6 separate regions of the Homo sapiens genome follow, and all the other regions are linked to region 6. The links come from fine-mapping of genetic effects on gene expression. A gene starts in region 6. Each other region holds a variant in brackets. All regions are shown on one strand. Distances are between the middles of the regions. Region 1 has its middle 23 kb from the start of PRPF18. Region 2 has its middle 16 kb from the start of PRPF18. Region 3 overlaps BEND7 (BEN domain containing 7). Region 4 overlaps BEND7 (BEN domain containing 7). Region 5 overlaps BEND7 (BEN domain containing 7). Region 6 holds the start of BEND7 (BEN domain containing 7).

Evidence for each region. PIP is the estimated chance that this variant, and not a neighbour inherited with it, causes the effect.
Region 1: its variant is the best candidate, but not a certain one, in a credible set for the expression of BEND7 in whole blood (Lepik 2017, PIP 0.85).
Region 2: its variant is the best candidate, but not a certain one, in a credible set for the expression of BEND7 in whole blood (INTERVAL, PIP 0.87).
Region 3: its variant is the best candidate, but not a certain one, in a credible set for the expression of BEND7 in whole blood (INTERVAL, PIP 0.85).
Region 4: its variant is the best candidate, but not a certain one, in a credible set for the expression of BEND7 in skeletal muscle (GTEx, PIP 0.55).
Region 5: its variant is the best candidate, but not a certain one, in a credible set for the expression of BEND7 in lung (TOPMed, PIP 0.61).

What each region holds. Positions count from the first base shown.
Region 1 is chr10:13,561,550-13,566,623 of GRCh38, reverse strand. No RefSeq gene overlaps it. Among named protein-coding and RNA genes, the nearest start is that of PRPF18, 23 kb to the left of the region's middle. The variant C/T (reference allele first, on the strand shown) is at 2,045.
Region 2 is chr10:13,568,053-13,573,126 of GRCh38, reverse strand. No RefSeq gene overlaps it. Among named protein-coding and RNA genes, the nearest start is that of PRPF18, 16 kb to the left of the region's middle. The variant C/T (reference allele first, on the strand shown) is at 1,997.
Region 3 is chr10:13,492,117-13,497,190 of GRCh38, reverse strand. It overlaps BEND7 (BEN domain containing 7), which reads left to right. Exons shown (of 9, transcript NM_001369863.1): 4 at 303-425; 5 at 4,315-4,580. Among named protein-coding and RNA genes, the nearest start is that of BEND7-DT, 34 kb to the left of the region's middle. The variant C/T (reference allele first, on the strand shown) is at 1,987.
Region 4 is chr10:13,479,442-13,484,515 of GRCh38, reverse strand. It overlaps BEND7 (BEN domain containing 7), which reads left to right. Exons shown (of 9, transcript NM_001369863.1): 6 at 3,392-3,617. Among named protein-coding and RNA genes, the nearest start is that of BEND7-DT, 47 kb to the left of the region's middle. The variant G/A (reference allele first, on the strand shown) is at 2,579.
Region 5 is chr10:13,462,526-13,467,599 of GRCh38, reverse strand. The region is part of intron 6 of BEND7 (BEN domain containing 7); the gene reads left to right. Among named protein-coding and RNA genes, the nearest start is that of BEND7-DT, 64 kb to the left of the region's middle. The variant G/A (reference allele first, on the strand shown) is at 2,168.
Region 6 is chr10:13,526,790-13,531,863 of GRCh38, reverse strand. It overlaps BEND7 (BEN domain containing 7), which reads left to right and starts at 2,850. Exons shown (of 9, transcript NM_001369863.1): 1 at 2,850-3,391. The coding sequence starts at 3,331. It overlaps BEND7-DT (BEND7 divergent transcript), which reads right to left and starts at 3,260. Exons shown (of 2, transcript XR_930674.3): 1 at 3,212-3,260; 2 at 1,600-1,844.

The sequences.
Region 1 (5,074 bases), 35 kb before region 6:
ACACAAGACTGAAAAAAAGAGAAGTAGAAAATGGCTTTGTCACTTAAAGAGGTATAATATTAGGCCAGTCATTTGCAAAATAAAGATCATACTTTACTTAACCAACAGAGATTTTGAGGCAAAAAAAAAAAATGAGATAAAGTGTTTCTAAATGTATAAATTTAATATTATAAATAGACCCTAAATCAGGGTAAGTTTCTGCTATCAAACATAACATGATTTTCTTTTGATTGCTGAAGATGTTTAGTAATTTAATATATTTACATGGTAACTTTCTACTAAAGAACCCCCAAGGCTGGGGGCAGTGGCTCATGCCTATAGTGCCAGCACTTTGGAAGGCCAAGGCGGGTGGATCACAAGGTCTGGAGTTCAAGACCAGCCTGGCCAATGTGGTGAAACCCCGTCTCTACTAAAAATACAAAAATTAGCCAGGCATGGTGGCAGGCACCTGTAATCCCAGCCACTCGGAAGGCTGAGGCAGGAGAATTGCTTGAACCTGGGAGGCAGAGGTTGCAGTGAACCAAGATTGCGCCATTGCGCGACAGAGCAAGACTCCATCTCAGAAAAAAAAAAAAAAGAAAGAAAGAAAAAGAAAAGAACCCCCCAAATTTCAGTCTCAAAACTCTTCAGAGATAAGGGACAGAATGTTGAATGCCATGACGTCCTTTTTGTGTGATCCCACCATGATTTATTTGAACTTCTCTTATTATGTTTAATAGTCTACTTTATTTTATATATTTTTGTATTTATTTAAGCCATCTTTTGAATCCCATCTTTCTTGAAGGCAAGAGCTGTTACAGCCCCTCTAATGGCAGTCATTGGCTGATTGTCTCAGGTGCCCACCTTATAATCCTGCCTTGAAATGGCCCCGTAGCCCACCTTTCCACCTTCACCTCCACTGCACGCCTCCCCTCCAAACATTACACCCATTTTCTTTTTTTATTTTCAACTGTAACCACCACACACTTTATTTTTCTTCGTCATAGATCTCCATTTTCCATTCATCCCCATTCTTTCTAGTGTTTTATCCCCTGTATTTGTCTGTTCTTGCATCACTATAAAGAAATACCTGAGACTGGGTAATTTATGAGTAAAACAGGTTTAATTGGCTCATGGTTCTGCAGGCTGTACAGGAAGCATGATGCTGGCATCTGCTCGGCTTCTGGGGAGGCCTTGGGAAGCTTCCAATCAGGGTGGAAGGCAAAGGGGGAGCAGATGCGTCTTAAATGGCCGGAGCAGGAGCAGGGGATGGGGGTGGGTACCACACACTTTTAAACAACTAGATCTCACAAGAACTCGCTGACTATCATGAGGACAGTATCGAGGGGGATGGTGCTAAGGCATTCATGGGAAATCTGCCCCTATGGTACAGTCACCTCCTACCAGGCCCCACCTCCAACCCTGGGGATTACAATTCAACATGAGATTTGGTGGGGATGCAGATCCAAACTGACAGAGCAGGAGCACTGTCTTCTTGGAAAAACACTGCCATTTTAAGTTCTAGCTCCCTTTCTACCCTCATGCGTTTCAAGGAAATCACTTCTCTTCTAACAAGAAAAAGCCAGAAAGGGCAGATAGCAAAACACAGATAAGACAGCTCGGGCCCAGAAGGAGTGGGGGAAAGTCTCTTGGGTAACCACCAAACTTCACACTCATACAATGGGCCCCAGTAAAACAGTGGGCCCTAATAAGCACATTCCTTTTCCTTTAGGTGCACTAAGCTAGGAAAGCTAAAAGCAGACTCAGTGGGTATGCCTGTACCTGCAGGAAGATGTATGGGAACAGACACAAAACTCTCTCTCCCAGATAAGCAAGACAAAGAGACACAGAAACATTCCCAGCCTGTGATGCGCTCTCTTGACCTGACCTCTTAAAAACTCTTAGTCTGTAAGAGAGAGTGCTCCTGACCTAATTCGGCCAGAAGCCCCTCTCAGGTTTATTCTTTAACATAAACCTGTCTTTGACTGTTGAGCCACTTTTTGTGCTTCTTTCTTCCTTCTTCAACTCTTACACAGACCATATCATCCACCAACAGTTACCTGAA[C/T]GACTTTACGGTTCTTCCTCTCCCTCCATGATCCTTCCCTGATGTTTCCACTTTCCCACTTTCTACCACCTCTTGGCTTCATTCCCTTGTCCTATCACTTGCCCAGCTTTCTTCTGAATTCCCATAGTGGGTATCAGCCCTGTTGAAAGATCTCTATTGCCTGTGGGAGGAAGCTGGGTGCTGAGGAGCAGTTTCTTGTCAGCTTTGGCAAAGTGGTCAGGTGAGAACTGGACCAGGTGAGGAGGAAGACCCACACGTGTCTTCCTCCTCTGGAAGAAGGAGGGTTAGCAGACAAGGAGGGTTAGCCACAGGCAGGCAATAGAGAATTTGGGCCATTGTCAAAATGCCAAACAGGCTGTGTGCAGTGACTCATGCCTGTGATCTCAATACTTTGGGAGACTGAAGCAAGAGGACTGCATGCGATCAGGAGTTCAAGACCAGCCTGGGCAACAGAGCGAGACTGCTTCTTTACAAAATACTTAAAAGTTAGCCAGGTGTAGTGATGCATGTCTGCAATCCCAGCTACTTGGAAGGCTGAGAGGGAGGATCACTTGAGCCCAGGGGGTCAAGGCTGCAGTGAACCGTGATTGCATCACCATGCTCTAGTCTAAGTGGCAAAGTGAGTCCTTGTCTCAAAAAAAAAAAAAAAAATCCAGGTGGAAGAGGTAATCCAAGAAGAATAGCCTGCAAGTTCATGGATCCAGCCAACAGGGGACATGTTAGAGTCAGTGACAGAGAGAGAGGAAACATAGGTTAAAAAATGCAGGCACCAGCCAGGCGCAGTGGCTCATGCCTGTCATCCCAGCACTTTGGGAGGCCGAGTTGGGCGGATCACAAGGTCAGGAAATAGAGACCATCCTGGCTAACACAGTGAAACCCTGTCTCTACTAAAAATACAAAAATTAACCAGGCGCAGTGGCAGGTGCCTGTAATCCCAGCTACTCAGGGGGCTGAGGCAGGAGAACCACTTGAACCCAGGGGGGCGGAGGTTGCAGTGAGCTGAGACCATGCTACTGCACTCCAGCCTGGGTGACAGAGTCAGATTCCGTCTCAAAAAAAATAAAAATAAAAATAAAAAATGCAGGCACCAGGCCAGGCGCAGTGGCTCACACCTGTAGTCCCAACACTTTGGGAGGCTGAGACAGGTGGATCACAAGGTCAGGAGTTCAAGATCAGCCTGGCCACAGGCTCCCAAAAGGGAGTATTCAGGGGAGATGGGCTCAGAGACCTGTTATCTATAAATTCGGTAATTATTACTGAACTTCCCACTTACCTGTTTGCTACGGTTTAGATGTTTGTTGCCCAAACTTCGTGTTGAAATTTGATTCCCAACATTGGAGGTGGGGCCTAATGGGAGGTGGTTGAGTCACGGGGGCGGATCCCTCATGAACGGCTTGGTGCATCCTCTCAGTAATGACAGAGCTCTCGCTCTATTAGTTCACACGACAGCTGGTTGTTAAAAAGTGTCTGGCACCTCCTTCTCTCTCCTGCTTTCTCTCTCACCGTGTGATCACCACATGCTGGCGCTGGCTCCCCTTCCCCTCCTGCAGTAAGTGGAAGCTTCCTGAGGCCTCACCAGAAGCAGATGCTGGCGCCATGCTTCTTATACAGCCTGGAGAACTGTGAGCCAAAAAAACTTGTCTTTATAAATTATCCAGAGTCAGGTGTTCCTTTATAGCAACATAAACGGACTAAGACACATTCATCTTTGCCATACAAAGAATGCTATGTTTCCGGCCTCATCTGAAAATCGTTGCACATTTACCTCAATAAATTCTGTAGCTGCATAAGAGTATCTAGATGCTGGATGATAGTGACATCTAAACTGTCCCAGGAGAGTCATGAATGCAGGCGGCATTTCAGAAAACATGTCAAGTTGTAACATAAAGGGTCTTTGTGCACAGTCCTGTCCTGACCTCCCCCAAATGGAGATACAGGATCCACTGAGAGGCCAGCACCCTTCTCCCTCAGCAGCAACTTGGTGAGGTTGAATGATGGCAAAATAGCTCTACTGATAACTCTTCCTGGGCCTCTTTACCATCATTCCGCAATTCTATAAGGTAGCAATATCACACCCGGAGCTGATGGAGACACGGCTTGGTCGAGTAACTTACCCACGATCACACAGCTATGAGCAGAACACCCAGAACTTCAAACCAGGTCTGTCCATGATTTTATCAACTAAGTTAATACTGCCTCAAGGTAGAGATGAAAAACAAGCAGTATTAAGGGGAAAAAACATGCCAGTTGTGGTAAGGGCTCGTTGATTTCAACAATGCTTAGGGCTTGCTGATTTTAACATTAGTTCCTATTGTAGCCCCCAGAGAAAGGGAAAATGAGTACAAAGTATGGGCACCTGGTGGCCGGGGAGGCAGCTGTGGCCCAGCTATGCTAGAAATCGACATAAATCCAATGCATAAGTTTCCAGTAAGTAGGTCTTCTTGGGCTGCCTGGAAAACAATGTTTTGCTATTTGTTTTTATTTTTTCATCAAGGGCCTCAACTGCCAAAGGCAGGTTTGGCTTGGCCCTTGATGAAAAAATAAAAACAAACAACATGACTTTCTCAAAATGGCTGTTTACCCTCCCTCAAGGTTCATTCCAGGACCTAGGATATATCAGGGCACCAATAAATTTATCAAAATGATCACTGAAATTAGAGGTAAAATTACTCTAAATAGGAAGTTAGAATCACAGAACCTTTAAAACTAATACAACCATATTATAGGAATTTAGCAAATGGAGAAAATAAAATCATACGTAATTCTATCACACAATTACTGTTACCACTTAATAAAATTAGGGCGCATATTTTATTTGCATGTGTATAGACTTTGTAATAATTGTGCACCTATTATTTTGCATCCTGTTTTTTCTTTTATTTAATCATATCACATCCACTTTCACATTTTGATTGACAGTCTTCATTGTGGCTTCTTTAGTTATGTAATATTTCATTAAGTGGACTATAACCAGAATTTATTTAAATCACTCCTGTGTTGCTGGATATTTAGGTCATTGCAAGCTTTTGC
Region 2 (5,074 bases), 41 kb before region 6:
TTGACTAAACAGTACAATTGAAAGGCAGAAATTATTAGACTGGATTTTCAAAAACAAATCAACTGTATGTTGTCTCATTGGTTTTTTGAAACAGAGTCTTGCTCTGTCGCCCAGGCTGTAGTACAGTGGCACGATCCAGGCTCACTGCAAGAATCTCACTTTAAATATAAAGTTAGAGGTAAAGGATGGGAAATGATATTCCCATGCAACCATTAATAAAAAGAAATGAAACTACCTGTCTTAGTCTGGTTGAGTTGCCGTAAAAAATATCTTAGGCTGGGTGATTTATAAACAATAGTTTATAGTTCTGACGCTGGGAAGCCCAAGATCAAGATGCCAGCAGATTTGGTGTCTGGTGAGAGCCTGTTCCTCATAGATGACAGCTTCGTGCTGTGTCCTCACATGGCAAAAGGGGTAAGCCTGGCCTCTTTTATAAGGGTCAAGCCTTTTATGAAGGCACTGATCCTATTCGTGAGGGCAGAGTTCTTTCAAAAAAAAAATCACCTCCCAAAGCCCCCACTTATTAATACCATCACTTTGGGGGTTAAGTTTCAACATATGAATTTTGAGAGACTACAAACATTCAGATCATAGCAGTGACTATGTTAATTAGACAAAGCAAAATTCTGAATAAGGAACATTAATAGGGAGAAAGAAGAACATTTCATAATGATAAAAATGTCACTGCACCAAGAGGACATCACAATCTCAAATGAGTATTAACATAGCGTCAAAATGCATGAAGCAAAAGATGTTAGATCTCAAAGGACAAGTAAACAAGTCTACACTTATAGGTGGAGATTTCCACACATCACTATCAGTAATTGAGAGAACAAGTGGACAGAAAATCAGCAAGGATATATAAGACTTGTACATTATCAATTAGCATGACCCAATTGAAATTTATATAACATTCTGCCCCAAACATCAGAATACATACTCTTTTTAAAGTCCATTTGGAACATGCACTAAGATCATATTCTGAAGCATTAAACAATTCTCAATAAATTTCAAATAATTAAAAATATACGGTGTATGTTCTTTGACAACAATGAATTAAACTAGAAATAGCAGAAAAATATCTAGAAAACTCCAGTATTTGGAAATTAAACAGTACGGTTACAAATAATCCATAGGATCAAAAAAGTAATCACAAGGGAAATTAGCAAGTTTCATTTTTTTAGACAGGGTCTTGCTGTCACCCAGGCTGGAGTGCAGTGGCATGATCATGGCTTGCTGCAGCCTCCACCTCCTGAGCTCAAGTGATCCTCACACCTTAGTCCCCAAAATAGCTTGTGCCATGGTCATGTGCCACCACACTCGGCTCATTTTGTTTTTATTTTTTGTAGAGATAGGGTTTCGTCACATTGCCCAGGCTGGAAATTAGTAAGTATTTTGAACTAAGCTAAGCACAGTAGTACACACTTGTCCCAGCTACTCGGGAGACAGAGGTGGGAGAACCACTTGAACCTGCGAGGCGGAGGTTTCAGTGAGCTGAGAGTGCACCACTGTACTCCAGCCTGGGCAACAGAGAGAGATTCTGTCTCAAACAAACAAACAAGCAAACAAACAAAACCCTGTGGGGTGGAAATAGAAATCTCCAAGTCCTGAGAGTTTCACTGGAGACTTATCATATATTTAAAGTAGTAACACCAATTTTGCAGTTCTTCCAGAAAATATAAGAGGGAGTACTTCCCAACTAATTTTTATGAGGCCAGTTTCCCAGAAACCAAAACCTAACAAACACATTACAGAAAAATAAAACTATAGACCAATATCACTTATGAACTTAGACACAAAATTCCTCAACCGAATATTAGCAACTTGAATCCAACAATGTATAAAAATCATTATACACCATGAAAAGGTAGGATTTTTTTCTTTCCATAGCTTTTGGAGTACAAGTGGTTTTGGTTACACAGATGAATTGTAGAGTGGTGAAGTCTAAGATTTTAGTGTGCCTGTCACCCAAGTCCTGTACATTGTACTGAATATG[C/T]AGTTTTTTATCCCCCACCGCCCTCCCACCCTCCTTCCTTCTGAATCTCTAAAGTCTATTATACCAGTGTGCATGACTTTGCATACCCATAGCTTAGCTCCCACTTACAAGTGAGAATATACTGTGTTTGATTTTCCATTCCTGAGTTACTTCTCTTGGAACAATGGCCTTCAGCTTCATCCAGGTTGCTGAAAAGACATTATTTCACTTTTTTACAGCTGAGTAGATTCTATGGTGTATATATACCACATTTTCTTTACCCACTCATCGGTTGATTGGCACTTTGGTTGATTCCATATCTTTGCAATTGTGAATTGTGCTGTGATAAATATATATATGCAGGTGTCTTCTTGATAGAATGACTTCTTTTCCTTTGGGTAGATACCCAGTAGCCAGATTGCTGGATCAAATGGTAGATCTACTTTTGTTCCTTAAGAAGTCTCCATACCACTTTCCATAGAGGTTGTACTAACTTACATTCCCACCTTCCTTTTTTAGCATGTCTGTGCCAACATCTATTGTTTCCTGACTTTGGTTTTTTTTTTTTTTTTTTTTTTTTTGAGTCAGAGTGTCGCTCTTGTTGCCCAGGCCGGAGTGCAGTGGTGCAATCTCAGCTCACTGCAACCTCCGCCTCCTGGGTTCAAGTGATTCTCTTGCCTCAACCTCCCGAGTAGCTGGGATTATAGGCGCCCGCCACCACATCCGGCTAATTTCTTGTATTTTTAGTAGAGATGGGGTTTCGCCATGTTGGGCAGGCTGGTCTCGAACTCCTGACATCAGGTGATCTGCCCACCTCAGCCTCCCAAAGTGCTGGGATTACAGGCTTGAGCCACTGCACCTGGCCTGTTTTCTGACTTTTTAATAATGGTGGTCTGGCTGGGGTAAGGTGGTATCTCTTTGTGATTTTAATTTGCATTTCCCTAATGATTAGTAATGTTGAGCATTTCTTCATATATTTGCTGGCCATTTGTATATCTTCTTTTGAGAAATGTCTATTCATGTCATTTGCCTACTTTTTGATGGGATTATTTATTTTTCTGGCTGGTTTGTTTGAGTTCCTTGTAGATTCTGGATATTAGCCCTTTGTTGGATGCATCGTTTGCAAATATTTTCTCCCATTCTGTGGGTTGTCTGTTTACTCTGATGATTATTTCTTTTGGCATGCAAAAGCTTCTTCAATACAGTCCTATTTATTTATTTATTTATTGCATTTGCTTTTGGGGCCTTAGTCACAAATTATTTTCCTAGGCCAATGTCCAGAAGGGGTTTTCCTAGGTTTTCTTCTAGAATTTTTATAGTTTCAGGTCTTAAAGTCTTTGATCCATCTCGAGTTGATTTTTTTATATGGTGAGAGACAGAGACCCGGTTTTATTCTTCTACATATGGCTATCCAGTTTTCCCAGCACCTTTTATTGAATAGGTTGTCCTTTCCCCAATTTATGTTTTTGTATGCTTTGTTAAAGACCAGTTGGTTGTAAGTATTTGGCTTTACTTCTGATTTCTCCACTCTGTTCCATTGGTCTATGTATCTACTTTCATACCAGTACCATGCCATTTTGTTTAATATAGCCTTGTAGTATAATTTGAAATCAGGTAATGTGATGCTTTCAGATTTGTTCTTTTTGCTTAGAATTGCTTTGGTTATTCAAGGACATAAAGTAGAACTTGTTCCAGATATGCAAGAGTGGCTCAACAAACAAAAATTGATTAATTAAAAATTTATCAATGTAATCCACTGTATCAACTGGCTAACAAAAAAAAATCATGTGACCATCTTAGTTGACACACACACAAAAAGCATTTGACAAAATCCAACACTCATTCATGATAAAAACTTGCAGCAAAGTAGGAAAGAGCATTTACCAAAAACCTACAGTCACCATCATATGTAATGGTGAAAGACTGAATGTTTCCTTGTTGGGTTGGAGAAACAACCCAAATATACATGTCAACTAATGAATGGATAAATGCACCATAGTATCATTCATTCAAAGGAACTGTATTCTGAAATAAAGAAGGAATGAACAGCTGATATATGCAACAACCTGGAAAGTCCCAAAACAGTATGTTAAGTGAAGTATTCCAGACACAGAATACTATATACTACATGATTCCGTTTATATGAAATTTCAGGAGCATTAAAAATATAGTGATAGAAAGATTAGTGACTGCCAGGAGCTGGGGCTTGGGCTGGGAATTGACTGCAGAGGGTCACGAAGGAGCATTTTTTGGAGGAGGAGGGAAATGGAAATATTCTATATCATAGTGGTTAAAAAGACACATGCACCCCCTCCCTAAACATCTTATCCTCTGATATATTCCATACTCTTCCTATTGTATCCACTCTTTAGCATCCTCTGCCACTGCATCCTTCTGTGTTAGCCATCACATCCAAAATATACAATCTTCACAGGTTTGCATCAAAAAGAGCACCACTGGCCGGGCGCAGTGGCTCAAGCCTGTAATCCCAGCACTTTGGGAGGCCGAGGTGGGTGGATCACCTGAGGTCAGGAGTTCGAGACCAGCCTGACTAGTATGGTGAAACCCCGTCTCTACTAAAAATGCAAAAATTAGCTGGGCATGGTGGTGTGCGCCTGTATTCCCAGCTACTCAGGAGGCTGAGACAGGAGAATTGCTTGAACCCAGGAGGCAGAGGTTGCAGTGAGCTGAGATCGTCCCACTGCACTCCAGCCTGGGTGACAGAGACTCCATCTCAAAAAAAAAAAGCACTGTTTATAACTACTTATAACTACAGCTGCTACAATTGACAGCACGTTCCAAAAGGAGGGACAGAACATTGAGAACATTGCAAGTGGCAGTAGTAATGGCCATGGGAAAAGCTGGCTATGAATGTCCCCCACGTGTTAGAAATATCTATCAAGACACCGTTAAAGACCACATTTCACCCAGTTTAACGTGACTTTTTTTTTCAGTTTTAACTTCTCTGAAAAGGGGACATATTTTTTCAGTTGATGACATCACGCAGTTATAATTGAGAATGTTTATTTTTCCTTCTTAGTGGTGAATTTTTTTAATGGTGCACTTTTTTTTAAATTATACTTTAATTTCTGGGGTACA
Region 3 (5,074 bases), 35 kb after region 6:
AGCTCTGACAATAGGGAGGCCTGCTGTGCCCACTCATTGTGTGTGTGTGTGCATGCGGGCTCCCGCACCGCGCCACAGCACGCACGTTACAGTATGGAAGCCTGGATAATTAGATAAAGTCAGACCCCCAGATTTAGGTTGTGATAATTAGTGGGTACGTTTTCCTTAGGCACAGCTTCATCATAATTGCACATGCTTCAAAATCCTGCCAAGATACTTTCTTTTTTCTCTCCACCTCTTTATGATTTTTTTTTTTTTTTTTGGTTTGTTTGGAGTATGTCATTCTTTTCTTTCATGCTCAGGAGAACTTCCAGTGGTGAATTCATCAGCTGGATCAAACTGCTGTACTTGTAACTGCCAGTCAACGTTGCAGGCCATTCTACAAGAACTCAAGACCATGAGGAAATTAATGCAAATTCAAGCAGGTACAAGGATCAGGCCTCGGAATGAGTCCTTTGATTTTTAATGCATATCTGACATCTTCCGTTGGAATGTTCATTGTGCTTTTATTAAAGCCTTCTTCTCACCTTGCTGTCTTGCTGTGCCTTTTCAAGTATCTGTTTTTTCAGCTTTCTCTACAATCCATTTTTCCTTTAGCAAATCAAACATATTTTGTCTTGCTACTGATACAGCTCATATAATTATGTGTATGTACTCGATAGACTTCATTCCATGATCTCCTAGTACTTCACAAATGTCAGTTAATTAAATTTGGGAACAACTGTGTATGGAGGGGTCCTTTAGGAAGCATGGGCTTCAGTGTTCAAGCACTAAGCAGATAAGAAATGTGGAGCCCCAGGCTATGCTTTGTGGCTTTTCTCTCTCCTATTCAGGATGCGGAAGCTCAGAAATCCGCCGTGTTCTGTCGTCTTTGTTTATGTGACTCCTTTTTGTTTTCACTGCCATCAGGCAAGTTGAGGGACGGAAGAGCAGTGGATTTGTAATTTGGGATTGGATGCCAATTTCTGCTTTTGGAGCTGTGTGGCGCATCTGAGCTTCCTATTTCACGTCTGTAAATGGAGAATTCATATCTAACTCACAGGGCTGTTGTCAAAATAGAATGATGTAGTAGCTGTCAATGAACTTTATAAGGCATGGTACAAGCCTAAGCTGTTTCATTAGTGTGGTCTTAAAGTCCATGAAGCGTTCTATAGAAGTCTGGAAGTCTACGTCTTCATTATAGCAGCTGTATTTTCTGATCTTCACAATTGAGGGAAAACAGAATTGTTTTTGTCACAGGTACAAGAAATAAATCATTGTATTAAGTTTTCCCTCTTGTCAAGGGACATCACCACTTGATCTAAGCCATGTCGTGACTGGCTTTCCTGCCCTTTCATCAGGATGGTAGTCCGGAAGGTCGTCACTCAGAAGCTGTTCAGGATGCCATTTAGTGAATTCTAGTATAATTTTAATATTCAGTGATGTGGTTTTGATATAAAAAGCTTAATTAATACTTAGATATATCAGTCACCCAAGATCACATTAAAGTAATGTGAGCTACTTTCTGAAAAACAGCATCTTTTTATTTGAGATGGAGTTTCACTCTTGTTGCCCAGGCTGGAGTGCAATGGCATGATCTCGGCTCACCGAAACCTCTACCTCCCAGGTTCAAGCGATTCTCCTGCCTCAGCCTCCCTAGTAGCTGGGATTACAGGCATGTGCCACCACGCCTGGCTAATTTTTGTATTTTTAGTAGAGATGGGGTTTCTCCATGTTGGTCAGGCTGGTCTCAAACTCCCGACCTCAGGTGATCTGCCCGCCTCAGCCTCCCAAAGTGCTGGGATTACAGGCGTGAGCCACCGCGCCGGGCTAAACAGCATCTTTTTAAGCACTGAATTTGGTTTTACCCCAAGGAAGTATTTTGCTCAGGTCAGTAAGCATTGGACTCACCTTGTTCCACTACGATAATCTGTGTTCTTATTAACCTGGAGGAGGTTAACATCTCCTAAATAAGGAGCTCAGAAAGAAAGGTTACTTTATGATGTT[C/T]GGATTCTTTTCTCCGAGGAGGAATTTGTTAGCACTTAAGAAAATATGCATATGAAATTGTAATGATTTGTTTTGTCACTTAAGCTCCTTACTACTGAAATGGCAAACTACAAATTGCAACCATTTAAATCCTTGACGGAAGCCTTTTTAGAATCTATTAAGTAAATGCCACTTTGTCGCTATGTTTTCTTTTCTGAACCTTTGCAGATTAGGGAGGTAAACGATTCCAAAGCTGTAGGATGGCACAAAGGATAAACTGAATAAATTACTCTCCTTTAATTTTCTTAAACTTAAAAATTTGTGTCATGTGGGTAGATTTACTTAAGGTTTAATGCCTGAAGACTTAGATTTAAATTACATTTAGAAAGTTTCACCTTTCTTTTAAGAAGACAGGGAATAAGACCTAGAGGTAAGATCTGGATGCCAGAGACTTGGGCTGTGTCTAGATTTGCAAAAGGAGAAGAAAAACTCAGATAGTCCCCGTGTTCCTTAAACCAAAACATTTTCATTTCTAATTGAGAATCATGAGGCTTAGCAAGGCCTGGGGCCTAGACCATCGTGATCATTATTCGAGGTCCCTTTGATTCTGAGGGTGCAGACCCAGCCTTGAGGGGGAATGCAGAGAGACCAAAGAGAAGTTCCCAACTCTGGCTGCACAGCAGAATCACTGGAAGAGCTTTCAGACAATGCTGTTTCCCAGGCAGCATGCCTGGAGGTGTCAGTTCACTTCGTCTGGGGTGGGGCTGAGGCATTTCAGTTTTTTTGTTTGTTTGTTTTTGTTTTTGTTTTGAGACATAGTCTCACTCTGTCGCCAGGCTGGAGTGCAGTGGCGTAATCTCGGCTCACTGCAACCTCCGCCTCCTGGGTTCAAGTGATTCTCCTGCCTCAGCCTCTCAAGTAGCTGGGACTACAGGTGCCCACCACCATGCCCAGCTAATTTTTGTATTTTTAGTAGAGACGGGGTTTCACCATGTTGGCCAGGATGGTCTCGATCTCTTGACCTCGTGATCCGCCCACCTCGGCCTCCCAAAGTGCTGGGATTACAGGGGTGAGCCACCATGCCTGGCCCGGCATCTCAGTTTTTTTAAACTCAAGTGATTCTAATGTACAACCAAGGTTGAGAACCATTGAGCTAGACTAATTACTGGTTTAAAAACTTCTGTGCTCTTATGTAGTGCAATTAGTTTGCTTCTAATATTTATGAATTGCTTTTGAATTTGGAGACAAAAATATCAGGATCAAAGTGTAAATATTCTTTATTTTCAGACTGATAAGAGGTAAGAGGAGGTGATTCATGTTTATATGCCTTTAAAGACCTTTAGTTTTCACTTGTCTTATAGGTTCATTTCTGTTGAAAAGCAGGGACATCCTATAGTCATATTTAGGAAGCTATATTAATACTTGAGGATTTAAACAATGATGCCATGTTTTCCAATTACACTTTCCAAGAGAGTATTTTTAAATGGCTAGCAAACATAACTTCTCAGAGTGCACCTGTGAGAACTGTAATTTACCATCCTGGATTTCTTTAAGTATAGAATCAGGTTGAATACTTGGTTCCTGTACTGTGCTTTTCATGTTTGGAACTGTTTCTAGATTTCACTGATTTGCTTGACTTGTACAGAATGATATTGCTCCTTCAGTTATGTGAAACCGAGGTCTAGAGAAGTAGCCTGGTCTGAGGCCATGTAGCAGGGTGCTCTGGAGGTGGTTGATGTGTGGAGAATATTTGTTTGGTGAGGAAGGATTCACTGGTCCTAATTAAGTAACTAATAGGCTTTTCCCACATGCTTACTGGTCCCTAATGTAGAATCATCCCAGACGGCTTCTTTTGATCAGTCTTGCGCAAATGATCATCACTGTCTCATCTTTATCAGTTTTGGCACCTGTAGATTATTAGGAACGGATCAGTCTAACCCCAAATGTAATCCTGAAACAGGATTACAAGGAAGCACAGCCGTCTCTATCTAAATTTAAATCCCGAAGTTCTCATTTATTTAAAAACATCCTATGATTTATAAAGCCATGCTCAGGTGTTTTCTCACAGCTCATGATCCTTTCCCTGCATTGAACCCAACAGCAGTATGCTGTCACGATTCACCTGCAGTAACGCTTTCTCCTGAGTATTTTTCTGCCTTTAGGACTTGAAAGTGCTTCAGAGCCTGCGTTTGGTAACCTTTAGGTCCAGTTGGAGATTTATTTAGTGTGCTTCATCCTGGAGTTTTCCTCGTTTCGGTTTCAGTTTGTAGATCACATGGATAGACCGGAGATAAGTTTTCCTAAGTCAGACACACGTGCCTGTACCATATTTTTGTTTATTATTCGCAGTTGGAACTCAAAACAGACAACAACCTCCAATTTCCCTTATATGCTCCCAGCGAACTGCTGTCTCACGAAAGAGAAATAAAAAGAAAAAAGTGCCCCCAAAGACTGTGGAACCTCTTACTGTGAAACAGAAGCCCAGTGGGTCAGAGATGGAGAAAAAGTCGGTGGTGGCCTCTGAGCTATCTGCTCTCCAGGCAGCCGAGCACACCTCCCCGGAGGAGAGCCGCGTTCTAGGATTCGGCATTGTTCTGGAATCACCTTCCTCAGATGTAAGTTGCCATTTTCTGGCTGCTGACTCTAATGCTATGTAACTTTTGGGAATTTTATAGTATTTATAGATTTCCCTTTTGACAACTAGAGAAACTTGCAGACTATATGTGGGAAAGAAGAAAAGAAGACTGGTAATAATTTTCTTGTCTGGAGTTTTCTTTTCTGAAAATGTGATGCCTTATTTATTTAGACAGGTTTCCAGTTTTTGTCTCCGAAAGGAGGAGGGTGATGGCGTAAATAATCTGCTCACTAATTTCTTTTGCATTTTTAATTTTGCAGTGACAATTTTCAATTTCCTTAGTGTAGAGACCTAAAAGAATATAATTAAATCCTTTGTAGATGGGCATAAATGAACAGGGCCATACAGATAAGATCGCACCTTTCTGGAAACACAAACTAATAATAAAAAAGGAGCAGTCATGCTAATTCTATTTTATAGATGCAAGCCACACCACTAATTAGGTGGCAGCGCCATGCCATTTACTCCGTGTAA
Region 4 (5,074 bases), 47 kb after region 6:
TTTAAACTAGAGTCAGTAAACTAAGAGATTTCAATGATACAATTAAAGAAAGAGCTTTATCCTGTTTTTAAATATACGTACAAAGATGTGGATCATTATGTGATAGTAATCCACTGTGATTACATTTATCAAATGGAGGAAATAAAAAGATTTCTTAGTGAAAATGTGAGATTAGTGAACGTCATCTTTTCTTCATGTTTCAGAAAACAAAGCTGCCCTCTTTTGTTCTTTTAAGGCGTTGTTGCCTTGCGGCACCTGGCACACGTAGATAGCATTGGCGCTTGTTCACTCCTGGCTTAGAAATCTGAATAGGAGACAGGCCGAGAAGAACAGGAAGGACAGAGCCCAGTCACCTGTGCCCCGGCTGCCGCTGCCACCACCGCCTCCACTAATCAGACTACTTCCTCCTTTGTAAGGTGCTTGCAAAGGGGTGAGTTCATGTTCCTTGATCTGGAAAGAACAGTTCAAAATAACAGTATTTGGCAGTAGAAAGTGGAATGGAAAGCAGTGACAGCATCTGCATTGGAAGTCTCTTAGCTCTGCAGAAACTTCCAGATACTTAGTTGTTAGGAGTTGTGGCAGATACCAGAAACAGCGGCTGTACCTGTCTCCTGAATCCTACCTTCAAGATCCTGTTAAAACACTGTCCTATCCCCTCCTGAGCCCCAAGAGCCCCCTTCCTCCCGTACCCCCAGCAGCCAAGTCCTGCCTGATGCTGTCTCAGACAGCACTTGCTCTGTTCTCTCTCATGTTTTATCACGTTCGACTTTATAGGATAGGTATTTGTGCATATGTCTTGCCTGCAGAACCAGCCTTCAGATTCCTACACATGGAGGGGGCTCAGTGAGTAGGTATTGAAACAGCTGGGTCACTGTTCTCCAGGTCACCCAACTCCTGGAGGTACCACATGAACTGTTAGAAGACACAGGTGTGCTGAGCACAGCGTGGCAAACTTTCAAACCCACTTTCTTTATACAGGGATAAAAGATCTGTGAATCAACACCAGTCATTTTAAATGAATTCTTACATATTGTTTTGTTTATTCTAACAAATATCTATTGGGCAGTCAATGGGTGTTTGACACTCCAAATACAAGAGTCCTCATCCCAATGACAAATGCAAACTCCCAGCTAAGCAAATGCTGTGTGAAAAGTGCTGTAAACAGAGTTCTTAGAAACAGTATGAGCGCATGAAGAAGGGAGTGGCCAGTTCCGCCTGGTAGCTCATTCAGGTCAGTGTTTTTCAAACTGGGGTCCATGTTCACAGGATGAATCAAAGGGGAAGTCTCAGAGGTCAGCGTTTTAAGTACCTGTTTAATGGTATCAGAATCAAACTGAGATTATATAAGTAACTAGTGTCCTTCCCCTTCCTCTCTTGCCATTAAGAGTGTCTGAACCACACTAGATCCTCAAATAGCTGTGATTAGCTGCTTCTGTAAGATAAACTTGGATTTGTTTTAATGGCTTTCAAATGATACAGGAGCACTTAGCAAAAATCCAAGATCAGTTCATTTAGAACAAAAGTTCTAAATGCAGCATAGGATGTGCAAAATAAAACTCTGGTTATGAATAAAACTTCATCTTAGATTATGATGGTAAAATTCTCTCAATCCTAATAGTGTCTACATTGAATCATTCAACAAAGACATATTGAGTGCCTGGTATGTACCACCTCTGTTCTGGGATCTAGGGATGCAGCCTCCAGCTCAGACAACCTCCTCTGGAGACCTGGAACCAGCAAGCAGCAAGATGCAGAAGTTAAGGGGAAAACCTGACAGTATAGCTGTGTATGGTGATATTCACCAAACATTCAGAGACCAAACATGGAATGGCAAAGTGAAGCAGAAGTGTGAGATGACTTTCTGGATATTCCAGTTAAAAGTTCTATTTTGGAGGGACCAGGCCCAAACTCCTTCCTGTGTCATCCAAAGAATTGAAGCTATGCTCTGAGCCCTGTTTACTTTGACCATAGGTGGGGTGGCATGTTGAAAAGTGATAGGACAAAATCAAAAATAATCATTCTTACTATCCAGGAGAGAAATTCATCCCGGATCCTCACATTTCTGATGTGATTAGAAACTGCAAAGCAGGGCCAGTTTTGCAGAGTGGTGAATAGGAGATCTAAGAATCAGCTTTGATAGCATGTCTTAATTCAGTGAGGTTTTCTTCAGACTTTTTTCCTAACAACAGTTTACCAATTGCATTTCTTCATATTAAAGTTATTATTTTACAGCTACCATGTCATAACCAACAATAAACTAAATGACTTAGTAGTGCAGGTTATGACTAATGAACTTTCGTCTATTCCACAAGAAGTTATGGAGTGCCTGCTATATGCCAGATCCTAGAGATACAAAGTCTGAGCTTCAGGATCAGGGAGGGCTGCAATCTAATAAATAATTCTAATACAGTGTAAGAAATAGAATCATATGTCTGCTAAATGAACAGCAGGAACAGAGAGTTGTAGCCACCTCCATGGGCAGGAAGGAGTTAGGAGATCAGTTCATTTGGAAGGCTTTGTAAAGGAAAGGGTATGAACTGGGTTGAAAGATTCAAAGGTGAGCTGTAAACCTCCTGGC[G/A]TGCTGTTGGAGAAGGCGTGCTGAGCGCCGAGCGTGTGCGATAGCGTCCAAGTTGAAAGGCACCTTGGACGTCCTCTGATTCCGTATCCCAGTCAGGATGTCCCTGCCAGGGAAGCAGTGTGCTAGCACATTGGTTTTCCAAGAGTGATCTGGGACATAGTTTCACATTTTCCTTCCAAAATTAGGGATGGGGAGTGGATTTAAACTGCCTGGGAAACCTGCTCATCGTTTTTACTTATTTTACATATTAGTTTACAAAAGTTTTCATTGGGGAAAAAAAATATCTCTGCAGCTAAAAGCCACTGGCATAGTAGAAGGAGCCAGGGGCCTTCTGGGTTAGCCCCGTATCTGTGTCCTTAGGGGAAAGAAATTAAGTTATTTAGTGTATGAGAAAGTGATCTGTAACTGTACTGCACTGAGCACATTTGAATTATTTCTCAATCTTTTTTTTTATGATCTCTTTGGGCCTTAGTTCCTTTGTTTACAAAATGAGGATATTTCATCCAGAAGTCTCAACTCCCTGTTAGCTCTAGAATGATAGGATTTTGTGGTTGTCCAGGCTTCTCTTGGCTATTTTCTTTCCATTGCTTTTGACAAGGCTCAATATTGGAATTAGAGCATCTTGTTTCATAAGTTATAACTAGTCCTTGGTTTTATAAATAGCAGATCCTGGCAGACAAAGAAAGCCAAGAGTGTTTTCATTTGTAGGATATGTACATTTCAGTAGCTAGTGATGTTTTTTTGTTGCTCATGTACCCAAAGTCAGATGCTTCAAATCTTGCTTTTAATGAAATATCTGTGTTCTTTTGGTAGCCAGAAGTACAACTTGCTGAAGGCTTTGACGTGTTTATGCCTAAATCTCAGCTGGACTCTATATTGTCAAACTACACTCGCTCAGGAAGCCTTCTGTTTAGAAAACTGGTGTGTGCGTTTTTTGATGACAAGACTTTGGCTAACTCCTTACCCAATGGGAAGAGGAAAAGAGGACTCAATGACAACCGGAAAGGACTAGACCAAAATATTGTGGGTGCAATAAAAGGTTGGTCTGCATCATTTCATTTTGTGGGTTCTTCGTTGAGCTTTCCCTTCATTCCGTAACGATGCAGCTGAAATTGTAGTAAACTGACTAGTGGCCAGTTTCATTTGCCATTGCCAATTTAGCCATTCACATGGCTTTCGGGTGTGAGCTCTGTAATTCACCACCCCAAGTACCACTAGAATTCATTATTCAAGGTAATGTTAATTTGTTGAAATAATAATTTAAGAGCCAGTTTGACCTGCTGCAGAATCAAAAAGAAGTTTTTTCTTGACTTTTAAAATGCAGGTAATTTGTAATTTCTAAGAGCTTCCTCAGAATATGACTTCAACTTAAAGTTTGAGTTATGAGAATAAAGCTATGATGCTTCTTAAAAAAAAAAAAAAGATAAAGTAAAATGGTTCTCTCTGAAGTTTAGAGTTGCTTTACCAGGTTGTTGCTTCTAAAGACATTTTAAATCTAAGTGACCTTACTGTGACATCAAACCCTGTGCGTCCCCACACATGCCTGGCCCGCTCTTCTCCCTCTTGTTTTGTGCCGTGGAGTCATGCCAGCTCCATGCAGAGACCACCGTGGGTCTCTCCCCCTTCCCTCCTTTGAGCATGCATCTGTATTCCACTGCACTACGATGACCATGCAGGGGCACGTGGGAGCACCTCTGCATTTATATCCAGTGCCACATCCTAAACCTACTTCTCTTAACTTTAAAATGCCCATATTAAGCAATCTGATGAGTGTAACTTTAGGAAATAGAAGTACTTAGTTCTTACCAAAAAGAACATAAACCAAGTCTCAAAACTAAACACAACTCCATGAAAAATGAGACTCTGAATCAGGCCTTGCTTAAAACTGGAATAACGGATAGGGGTGCTGTGCTTCCTAGCTCAGTTCCTGCATTGTTGAGTTGTGAAGTGGGACTGACGCAGAGGGCCTTCTCTGCCCCCTTCTGTTCCCCATTATCTGGCAAAATGAGTAAATGAATTCAGTAGTGTTTAAAGGATGCTTGAAAGTCCACAATTAACTTTATAAAATAATACGGTATTTAAATGGAACTAGCAAGTACCAAGCACCCTTTGTTCATGGCCAGAAGGACATAAGCCTTCATTAACAGAGAATTTCTCATGCTCAATCAGAATTTTTTCACTTAAAGTGACAGTTGAGTTGTATTAAATATGAAAAGCTACAGAGATATCACAAACTGTGCCATTTCTGAAAAGAGTGATTCAGCCTGAAGTGACACTACAAACAACATGACAGAATTTGAAAAATGGTCAATGATGTAAGTAGGACTTCCTGAAGTGAAGAAGGGTCCCTTCTCAAAACAAGAAGGTCAAGGCTACTGGTGCTTTTCTGAAATGCAGCGAGGAATTGTTTTAATTTTCTTTTTTTTTCCCCAGGGCAGCATATTAATATTATGAAAGCATTTGGAAATTAGGGAACCATAAATGACCATAGTCCAT
Region 5 (5,074 bases), 64 kb after region 6:
TAGTGTAATCTTGTCGATCAAAAACATTAAGGTAATCTAAAATAAAAAAGCCAAGTTTGTATTTAATGGGGCTGTGAAAGCATTGATCATTGTTAAATATCAAAGAGAAACCTCCACGGTATGCCACATGGAAAGTGTAGTATGTCATGCTTTCTTTCATACTAGAGAGGAATCATCCTCAAAAGTTGAAGTGTAATCATTTTATTGTGGGATTTTGGTTTAAATAAACCTAATAACGGAATCCATAGTTAGGCTAAATGTGCCGTTTCCTAGTTTTCCTACCTGAAGACTTCTTGACACATCCGTATACTTCCCCTCCAGGTATATTTTAGCCTTTGTCCTAGCAACTTGGTGCCTGAAAGAGTGAGGATCAGATAAAAGTCTGAGAACTCCTGTCAGCCTCAGAATGTGAACCCCAAATTTTCCTACAGCTGATCCCAATGAGAAGGGAGTTGCCACTGTGTAAAAAAGAACAGGAAATTGAATCCTACCTCTGAGGCATGGGCCCTGTCCTGACGCCCCAGCATCTTCCCCCGGTGTCCACGGTGGGACAGTGCATAAATCTCCACTGATGAGTGAGACCCCTGCCCCGCACCCGCCTTCCCAGCCCTTCACCCTTCCTTCTCCCAGCCTCTGTCACCTCTGGGTTGCGGTCTGACCTGAGCCTCCTGCCTATGTTATAATTTACCCTGGCACTGGAGGCGTTCATTCCAGACCTCCTGGCGAGGGGGTAAACTCAGCGCCTCATGGAATGACTTTGAAAATTCATATACTGAAAAACCCTCGCTTTAGAAAGAGAAAAACGCATGACTTTTTCCTCATTCATTTATCTAAAGAACAGTCAAGCCCAGTAACATGTGGAGGGAACGCATGTGTTTTATGCCACTTGCCTAAGGCCTCTGAGCTGGTGATTCCCAATCTTTTAAATTTTGTGTTGCTTGAGCCTCAGCATTCGATTCTATAAAATAAATAAATGAGTTATACGAAACATAATGCACCTTCCAAGTAGAATTTCTATAAATCCATAATTTTTTTTTTTTTGAGACAGTTTCTCACCCTGTGACCCAGACTGGACTGCAGTGGTGTGATCTTGGCTCACTGCAACCTCTGCCTTCCAGGCTCAAGCAATTCTCATGTCTCAGCCTCCCTAGTAGCTGGGATTACAGGTGTGCGCCACCACGCCCAGCTAATTTTGAATTTCTAATAGAGACAGGGTTTCGGCATGTTGGCCAGGCTGGTCTCAAACTCCTAACCAGGTGATCCGCCCACCTCAGCCTCCTAAAGTGCTGGGATTACAGGCATGAACCACTGCGCCCGGCCTATTAAATCCATAATTTTGAAACATTTTTCTTTGCTAAAAAAAAAAAAAAATGGATTCAACGGTCAAACATCATTACACTAAAGCTTGTTATTACCCAGATCTTAATACTTAGTAAATACGACGTAACCATTGAAATATACCAACTGTGTTAAACAAAGGCATGGCACAGCTCACCAAAGGAAAGTTCTTCTTGTTTCCCAACAGTTGTATTATAAATGGGTGCTTCCTTAAATTGATAGAAATTAAAATTAACCTTGTTTAATTTGAGAAACCACTATCAGCACTTTTTGGCACTTCCTTTTAGACAGAAATGTCATAGTAGCAAAACTGAAGGAAGACAAAGAATATTGTTGTCTGTCCCCCCACCCCTGCCACCACACACACACACACACACGAGAGAGAGAGAGATAGCTGTGGCCTCAAATCGGTGAGAATCACTGGGATTCAACAAGACTCTTCAAGCCTCAGAGTCCCACCAGTGTGGGGATAACAAAGGGAGCACTGTGGGACGTAGATTCACTCCTGACTGTCATTCAAGCTCTTGAACCATCACTTTCTCTAGGAAAAAAAAAAGTGTGGCTTGACTAACTTTTAAAGTCTCCAGTTAAAATAATAATAATAAAAGCCTCCAGGTCAGAGATTCTGTGGTTCAGAGGTTATATTCCAAATTCTCAGAAGTAAACCTAAAGAACCAGATAAATATGGCTTGGAATCAGTTTTATGGATATCTAGGGCCCTTTTCATTACATCAGCCAGCTGAAAATAACAGCCCCATAGAGTAGCAGTCAGCACGAAGATGAGATGGTCCTCACGGCCAGCTTTTGCAATCCTTGACTTTTGTGTCTT[G/A]TACGACTGACTGCCCCGCATGCCGGCTCCTGCTAAAGTCTCATGTCTATAACTCAGTAGGATATTCTCATTTCATCAGTAAATACCTTGTCTGCAATACTTTATTTCCTTAATTTAAAGGCATCATTTTTAGGTGCATTAGTTGATGAACTGTGCTAAATTCTGATTGTCAAACCGAATCTGAAATGAACTTCAGGGCTCAGTATGAGACCTCTGGCTATTTACTGAAGAAGTGCTTCTTACAGTTCCTTCAAGTTAAGTAACAGACGAGAGAAAAAACTTTCTCAGATTTACTCTTTCATGAACCATACATTCATACCTGCCTATTATGTGCCAGCAGTGAATGGAAGACGTGATCTCTGCCCTTGCTTTGAGCTTGCAGTCTTGATGAACACTGGACATTGTTATTTTAAAAAATCACTGGTTAACGAACTCAGGTAGGCCTTATCGGGGAAGGTCACGTCTCAGTTGAGACCTGAAGGATGAGATGCACTGCTGTCTTCTCTGTTATTCCCCGAAGGCAAATTACTGAGTCTTCTCCCAGCTCCCTTTTAAAGATAGCTTTTGGTGCTTATCCCAAAAGAGTGTGTGTGTAAGGAGTATAATTGAAATCTAGTCAGCGTTGACATTTCTGTGGCATAGCCCTAGGAGAAATTTTCTGATTTGTTCACAGACTGAAGAACGACATTTGTCCCCATTAACAGTAGTCTTTAGGTTAAAACGTTGAAATAATAGTGTTCCTCTTCATCTTGAATGTGGTAAAGACATTTGCCAAGAATTTGTTTTCTCTGCCTTCCCCTAAGATTTAAAACAGCTATTATTAATAATTTACTTCATATCCCCTCTCTAAGAATCAAGATGTTCCCTCTCCCTTCCATTCTCTCTCTTCCCCGCCCCAGAGTAATGGAGTTGGTGTGTATCTTTCCCATTCATTCTTACTTTGCCACTTGTGTTCCCGTCAATCCTATTCATTATTGTTTTGTGTCCTGCTTACAGATCTGTGGCCACAGCATCACACGGTACTTTTGCAACTTGCCTGTGTTTCACATGTCCTTTTTCATCTTTTTAAAGATTTGTCCATCTCAGCACATTCTAACCCTAGCTTAGCCATTTCATCTGCTAACCACTGCATGACAAAGCCTTTTCTTCCTCCAGGCTTCTCGTAAGAGACAGTGAGGCTGGCTTTTCTCTTTCCCTGTCACCCAAGGCAGCTGTCATCTCTGTGTTTCTGGGTGCCCATGTGTGGGTTTCTCTAGAGAACACACCAGGCAATGGAACGGCCGAGTAACAAGGAACAGCGTCTTCAGCTTCGCTGGGCATTATCAAGTGGCTCTCAAAACTGATTAATTGATGCATCTGCCAGCAAGGTAGAAGAAATCCCACTTTCCCGCATTCTTGCCAAGATCTCTTGTTACCAGATTTTAATTTTCACCAGTCTGATGGTTCTCAAGTGAGGCTCAGTGGTAGAATCTCTGATCACTAATGAAGTTCTGCATCCTTTCCTATTTGTCATTATTTAGTTATTTTTCCTCTGTGAATTTCCATCCTTTTCCTGTTTTTCCACTAGATGGTTCTTCTCTTACTGACTTACTGGAGTTTTTTTGTCAATGACATGCATTTCAAGTATCACCCCTTATTTTCCAGTTGTGAAGACGTTGCCTACAATGTCTTTTATCTTACCGAAGTTGAGATTTGACAGGCAGATGGATTCTCTTCATGCTTTTTGCCTTTTTGTGCCCATTTTAAAAGATCCTCCCTACTCAGATGATATAATTATATCCTTTTATTTTTTTTTCCAACAAAGTTTTATTTTTTATAATCAGGTCTTTAATCCATCTGGAATTTACTTTTACCTAAATGTGAGGTAGAGATTTAATTCAATTGTTTTTCACTGTGGATGATCAGTCATTTTAACAGCATCCATTTTTGACTGATTCATAATTCTATCTCTGCCATAGTCTGAGCTCCTCTCACACATGTTTACATTTGGTCTTTTATCTACCTTCGTCTTTGAGCCATCATTTTCATTACTCTGGCATTGTAATAATTCTTAAGATCTTATAGGTCATGCCCTCTGCACTCCTCCTCCCCTTTCTCCTCTCCAGTTCTTTGCCTCTGTGTTGTTTTCTTCTTCCCATAAATGGGAAGAAGAAATGGGTTCTTCTAACCCATAAATGGGCTGAACCATTTCTGCCTAGTGTTCCATTATTGGAATGCTAAGCTTGTGGGAGTTATTTTATATTCTGCTGTTCATGGTCATCACCAAGGTCTGATTTTTCACAAAAACATTTGCAATCTCCAGCATAAATGGATTAAGCACAGTGTTTAGTAATTCTTTGATTGAGGGTCTTCGAGTCTTTGTTCCGAAATTTTCCTCGGAACAAAGGAATGATGTGGAGTTTAGTTGGGTGATTTGTTGTAGATCAAGGATGGTTTTTCATCATGATTTGAAGATATTCCAGTGTTCTCTAGATTCAGTTGTTGTGGAGTCTGATCAACCTGTTGTTCTTCTGTAGATCATCTGTCTTTTTGCTCTAGTTGATTGTAGGATCTTTTGGCCTTTGGTGTTCTTTGGTTTCTTTATTACAGTTATGTATTTATTTTTCTTAATATACTTGATTGTTGTGCTTCTTAGAACCAAGGATCCATGACTCACCAGTTGTGAAGACTTTTCATCTACTCTCTCTTTCCTCTCCTTCATTCTTTGAATTCTCTCCCTCTGAAACATCTATTAGTGTTTACTGGACCCTTTTATTCTGTCCTTTGTATCCCTTATCTGTTCTATTTCCATCTCTCATGTCTATGTTACACTCTGGGTTATTCTCCAGATCTATCTCCCTGTTCCACTCAGTGATATTAATTTATTGATTAACCTGTCCTTTGAGTTTTTATGTTTCAGTTGTGATA
Region 6 (5,074 bases):
CAATTTAAAATTGTGCCCCATTTTGAGTGGCATGATGAAATCTTTAGCCAACCTGCTCCTTCCGGCCCAGAATAGGAATCATTCTTTAGCCTAGCGTATTCACATTGTCTGCACTATCTGCTCGTTAGTCACTTGTTGGCTTGGTTATTAGAAAACATAAAACAATAAAAAACACGGTATATATGGGGTTTGATGGTAACATAGTATATACGGGGTTCGGTACTATCCTCAGGTTCAGACATCCACTGAAGGTCTTGGACATACTCCCCAAGGATAAGGATCAGCTACTATATGGATACCTGCTACTTAAAGCAATCTCACTTTATGTTTTATTTTATATTTTAATTTTTTGGTAGAGACCGGGTCTCAGGATGTTATCCAGGTTGGTCTTGAATTTCTGGCCTTAAGCAATCCTTCTGTATCCCAAAATGTTGGGATTACAGGTGTGAGCCACTACACCTGGCCCCAAGCAACCTCATTTTAATTAAACATTATTATTAATTTTAATACTAAATGTGATATATACATTTTTGTTAGATAAGAGCATAGTGATTTGCACAAAATGCAGAGTAAACAGACATTTATTTTCTCTAAAAGCTAATAAGACAAGCGTAGCCTGTGTCCTCTGCAGGCCAACTCACTCATAGACCAACTTTGGAAAGCCAGGTTAAAAAGGGTCAAGGAGAAATGACTACTATTTAAAAATATTCTTACTCAAATATTTTATTCTTAACTATATCAAAAATATTCTCTTCAGTAAATGGAATTTGCATTCCCACTTGAACTGAAAATGCTAAGTTGTTAATACCTTCTCCAGGGATTTACTTCTTGGGATGACACCTTCACTGGGTTCGTCATAGTTTAAGCATAATAAAATCTCATTATATGCTCCAAAGCATGAACGATCCGGGAAGTTCCTCAGTCAGTGTAGAACTTAGCCTTACGGCTTTGAGAATAACATTTTAAAAGGCATTACATAAAGAAAGAATGGATCCCAGCCTGGGGAACAAAATTGCATGCTTTGTTTCTTTAAAAACATCCAAAACAGCCGGACGTGGTGGTTCACGCCTGTAATCCCAGCACTTTGGGAGGCCTAGGCGGGCTGATCACTTGAGGTCAGGAGTTTGAAACCAGCCTGGCCAACATGGCGAAACCCCATCTCTACTAAAATACAAAAAATTAGCTGGGCGTGGTGGCCCATGCCTGTAATCCTAGCTACTTGGGAGGCTGAGGCAGGAAAATCGCTTGAACCCGGGAGGTGGAGGTTGCAGTAAGCTGAGATCGCACCACTGCACTCCATCCTGGGCGACAGAATGAGACTCTGTCTCAAAAAATAAAAAATAAAAAAAAATCCAAAACATCTTCAGATTTTAATGCCTGATTTTAAAGAAAGGGGTGGCAGGGAAGGAAGAAACCCAAATAGGGTAGTTGCTTTAATCACTGTTACCACTAATTTTCTGAGAGCAGCAAAGCGCGTCTAAGAACTCCAATAAATCTATACTAAATTTTATATGTCCCATACATATTTTCTGGGAAAAAGGGCCCTTGAGCTTTGAACACAATCTCAAAGGAAACAGTGACTAAAAAAGGTTAAGAACCTCTTGTTGAAGGGTTTGCTTTATTGAACGGAAGAAACAGTTCTCCCTCTCCCCTCCACGCTAGGTATAACCAGCCTTCCGGATGTGCCGCCTTTGGTATCACCCAAGATCTCGGGATGGGTACCCATCCCTGCCTCCACTGCCTGGTTTGCTGGTTACCCTGCTCTTTGGTTCTGTTTCTCCATGTGTGTTTCTGCAAGCTGCCTCAATGTCCCCCTTCCTCGGCAGTTGTCCTACTCTGTGTCCCTGAAATAAGAGCGGTTCCTCAGCGGCTGCCTCATTTGGGTGAGACCCACGTGACACTCATCACATTTGTCAACCTCCCCTTTTTCCTCTCTACTCTTTTGGGGCCACTGGCCTTTGTCCCGTGCCGGAGAGGTAGCCCCCCCATCCCCCGACTCTTTACCCTCTTCCTGGTTGGGTTTGGCAGATACTTTCACGCATGTCCCGTCATGTTCCTGTCCTACCATTCCCAGGTAGTGTGAAATTCTTTTCCTGGCCCACTCGAAAGATGTGAGAAAGAAATGGTGCCTGAAGTGCGCTCTCTGATCCCCCGAAAAGAATATTACACATAACTACTAAGCGCTTTGTGTTTGGGTCCATGATTCCGACATATGACGTGGAGAAGCATAGTGCCCTGCACCTGCCTTGACCATGGCCTCCTGAGAGTCCCCAGGGCCACCAAGCCCCCCATTCCAAGTGCTCTCCTTGAATGTGACTCGGCTCTTTCCACAATCCGCCCAGCCTGGGTTAGGGAATGGGAGCTCTCTACTATATTCTTCTCCACAATATTCTAAAACCTCCTCTCTGTCCTTCTAGAGAGAGCGCAAATGGGTAAGTTTTTTCCCCCTAAAACTTGCTTAAAATCAGCGCGTCGGGCCCCGGGGCGCCCGGGATGTGAGGGCGGGGAGGTGGTTGTCGGGGCGGTCCGCGCCCCCACGGCGAGGTGCACGGAGTTAGCTCGGCCCAGCAAGCGGCGGAGGGAGGCCAGCGAGCGGGGTCTGCGAGCGGAGGCCCGGGCGGCGGCGTCGTCCCCGGGGGCAGGCAGGCCGGCCGGGCCCGGGCCAGGGCGCTGCGCCGCGGCCTCCGCGCCTCCTCGGGGCGCCGCGCGGCCAGGCCGGCGGCGGCCCCCGGGGATGGCGGCGGCCGGGCTCCGCCAGCAGGTGGCCCTGGGGTCCCAGCGGCACCGCCCCCTCCGCCGGCGCCCCTCCTCCCGCGGGGGCGGTCAGCGCCCCGGCCGGCTCTGCACCCGCCGCCGCCCTCCCCGCAGCCCGCCCGCCGCGTCTTCGGGGCCGCCGCCGCCGCCGCCGCGACCGCAGGCTGAGCCCAGGCGGGCCGGCCGCCCCGAGCCGCCCCCCGCCTCCGCCGCCGCCGCCGCGCCCCGGCCCGGCCCGCTCCCAACGGAAAGTTGGGCTGCGGCGGGCGGCGTCTGGAACCCGCGGGCCGGCATGAGCGGGGGCCGCGGGGGCGCCTAGGGCACCGGGAGGCGGCGCCGCGCGGGGGCAACTTCGCCCGGGAGCCCACGCCGCCGGGCCCCGCGCCTGCAGCCCCGAGCCGGCTCGCGGTGGTTCCTCCCGTCCCGCGGCCTCCCCTCGCCGACTCCAGGCGCGGACCTTGGTCCCGGCGGCTCCGCCGCGGTGACACGAGCCCGCGCCGCCGCTGCCGCTGCCGCCGCTGCCGCTGCCGCCGCTGCCGCCGCCTCCTCAGCCCCCGCCGCCGCCTTCCCCGCACCATGGAGTTCTCCGAGAGGAAAAGAAGCAGGAAATCCCAGAGCTTCAAACTGGTGAGCCGAGGTAAGCGGCCGCCGGGGCGGCGGGGGCAGGCAGCGGGCGCCGCGCCCTCGGCCGCCCGCGGGGGTCCACGCTGGGGGGCGCGCCCTCCCGGAGCCCCCGGTCCTTCCCGGTCCCCCGGTGCCTCCGCCGGGCTGGCAGGCAGGGCCGCGGCCGCACACGCCGGGCGGCGGGGAAAGTTGTGCGGGGGGAGCAGGGATGTTATTTAACGTAAACAAGTCGGAGGGCAGCTCAGGAAATTAGCAAACAATGACACCGGGGGGCCCGAGCCCTCCTCGGGGCGCCTCCGGGGCAGGGCTGGGGCGGCCGCGGACCTGCCTGGCCATCAGGCCGAGCGTGGACCCTCGGACCTGAGATTTGCTGTTTTTGTTTTCTGGGGTCTTCCCCCTTCCCCCCGCCAAGAGAAGGAGGAAAAAGGATGACCGTTGTTGTTCTTTTTAAGAAGGAGAAAGAAGCTCACGCCGTGTCCAAGCCCAAGGCGGAATTGTTGACATCCAACATCTCTAGCTAGCTGATTTGGGTTGGAAAGGTGTTTTAGACTAGATCATATAGCAGTCAGATAAGCATCCTTTAAAAAAAAGAAAAAAGAAAAGAAAGAAAAGAAATCCATCTAGTTTCTGACGAATTAACAGGTGTACACCACACTCTAGGGTTTGTATTTTGTCAGGGAGGGGAAAGTGGAATACAGTCTTGTCTGTGTTCAGTTACTTGTTAAGAGTCTTTATCTTCCTGATTTGACTTTTTTTTTTAAAAAAATGATAACTCAAGAGCCATCGTGAAAATATATCTCAAAATGCATTGTCATCTTTAATTAGGGGCAGGTGACTTTTTTCATTGTAATGTCACAAGTCCTCATATTGAGTTTAGACCCGCTCTGTTTAAATGTCGTCTTTTAATCAAGTTGAGGTCAAAGCCAAACCCCAACCTGTCCACTTTTCCTCTGTCGTTTTCTCTAGCATTGGCATCAGGGTAGAAACTCCAACAACCTGCAGAAGTCACGTGTAAACTGATGAAAATTAGTGAAAAAATCGTGGACAATTGCAAGTAATCGAATTTTTCAAACTGAGCTAAGCTAGCTAAGATGTGGATTTGGTTCATCTGAAAATGCTTTGATTATAGGCATTTTGAAGATCCATTCTTATCTGCCTCCCCTAATTTAGTTTGGATACTGTTTAATGAAAGAGGCCTGAAATAGTTTCACGCATTCAAAATACTTGGCTCTTCCCACTTTCTGAGTAAATTTTTTTTTCCACATCCGTGTTGATTACTCAGTTACTTGGACTTTTAAAAGTCTCTGTCTGGGTGATTGCCCTGTTGGTGCTATCTGATTCATTCAGGAATGTAAGCTGCTTTCTTATTGATGACCTCAGAGAACTTAACTGCTTTATCTTAAAAGTGAGAGTAGTTTTGTTGACTTTGTCCTGTGAGGTCTAAGGCCAGAGAAAGGGGACTAGGTGTTAAGGAGGAACCTCTATTTTCATGCCTTAGTGACCCTGCTTTTCAAAAATAGAAGCAAAAATGCAGTAGCCTCCATAGAGAAGCTTGTAAAATACTGTATTTGAAACTTTGACTGACGTAGCAAGTTTTTCCTTTTTCCTTTTTTCTTTTTCTTTTAATTATAGGTCTGATTCTTCTCTTTCTCTGCAGGTGCAGTTTTAGAAAATAAACTTGCATATTAAATAAAGT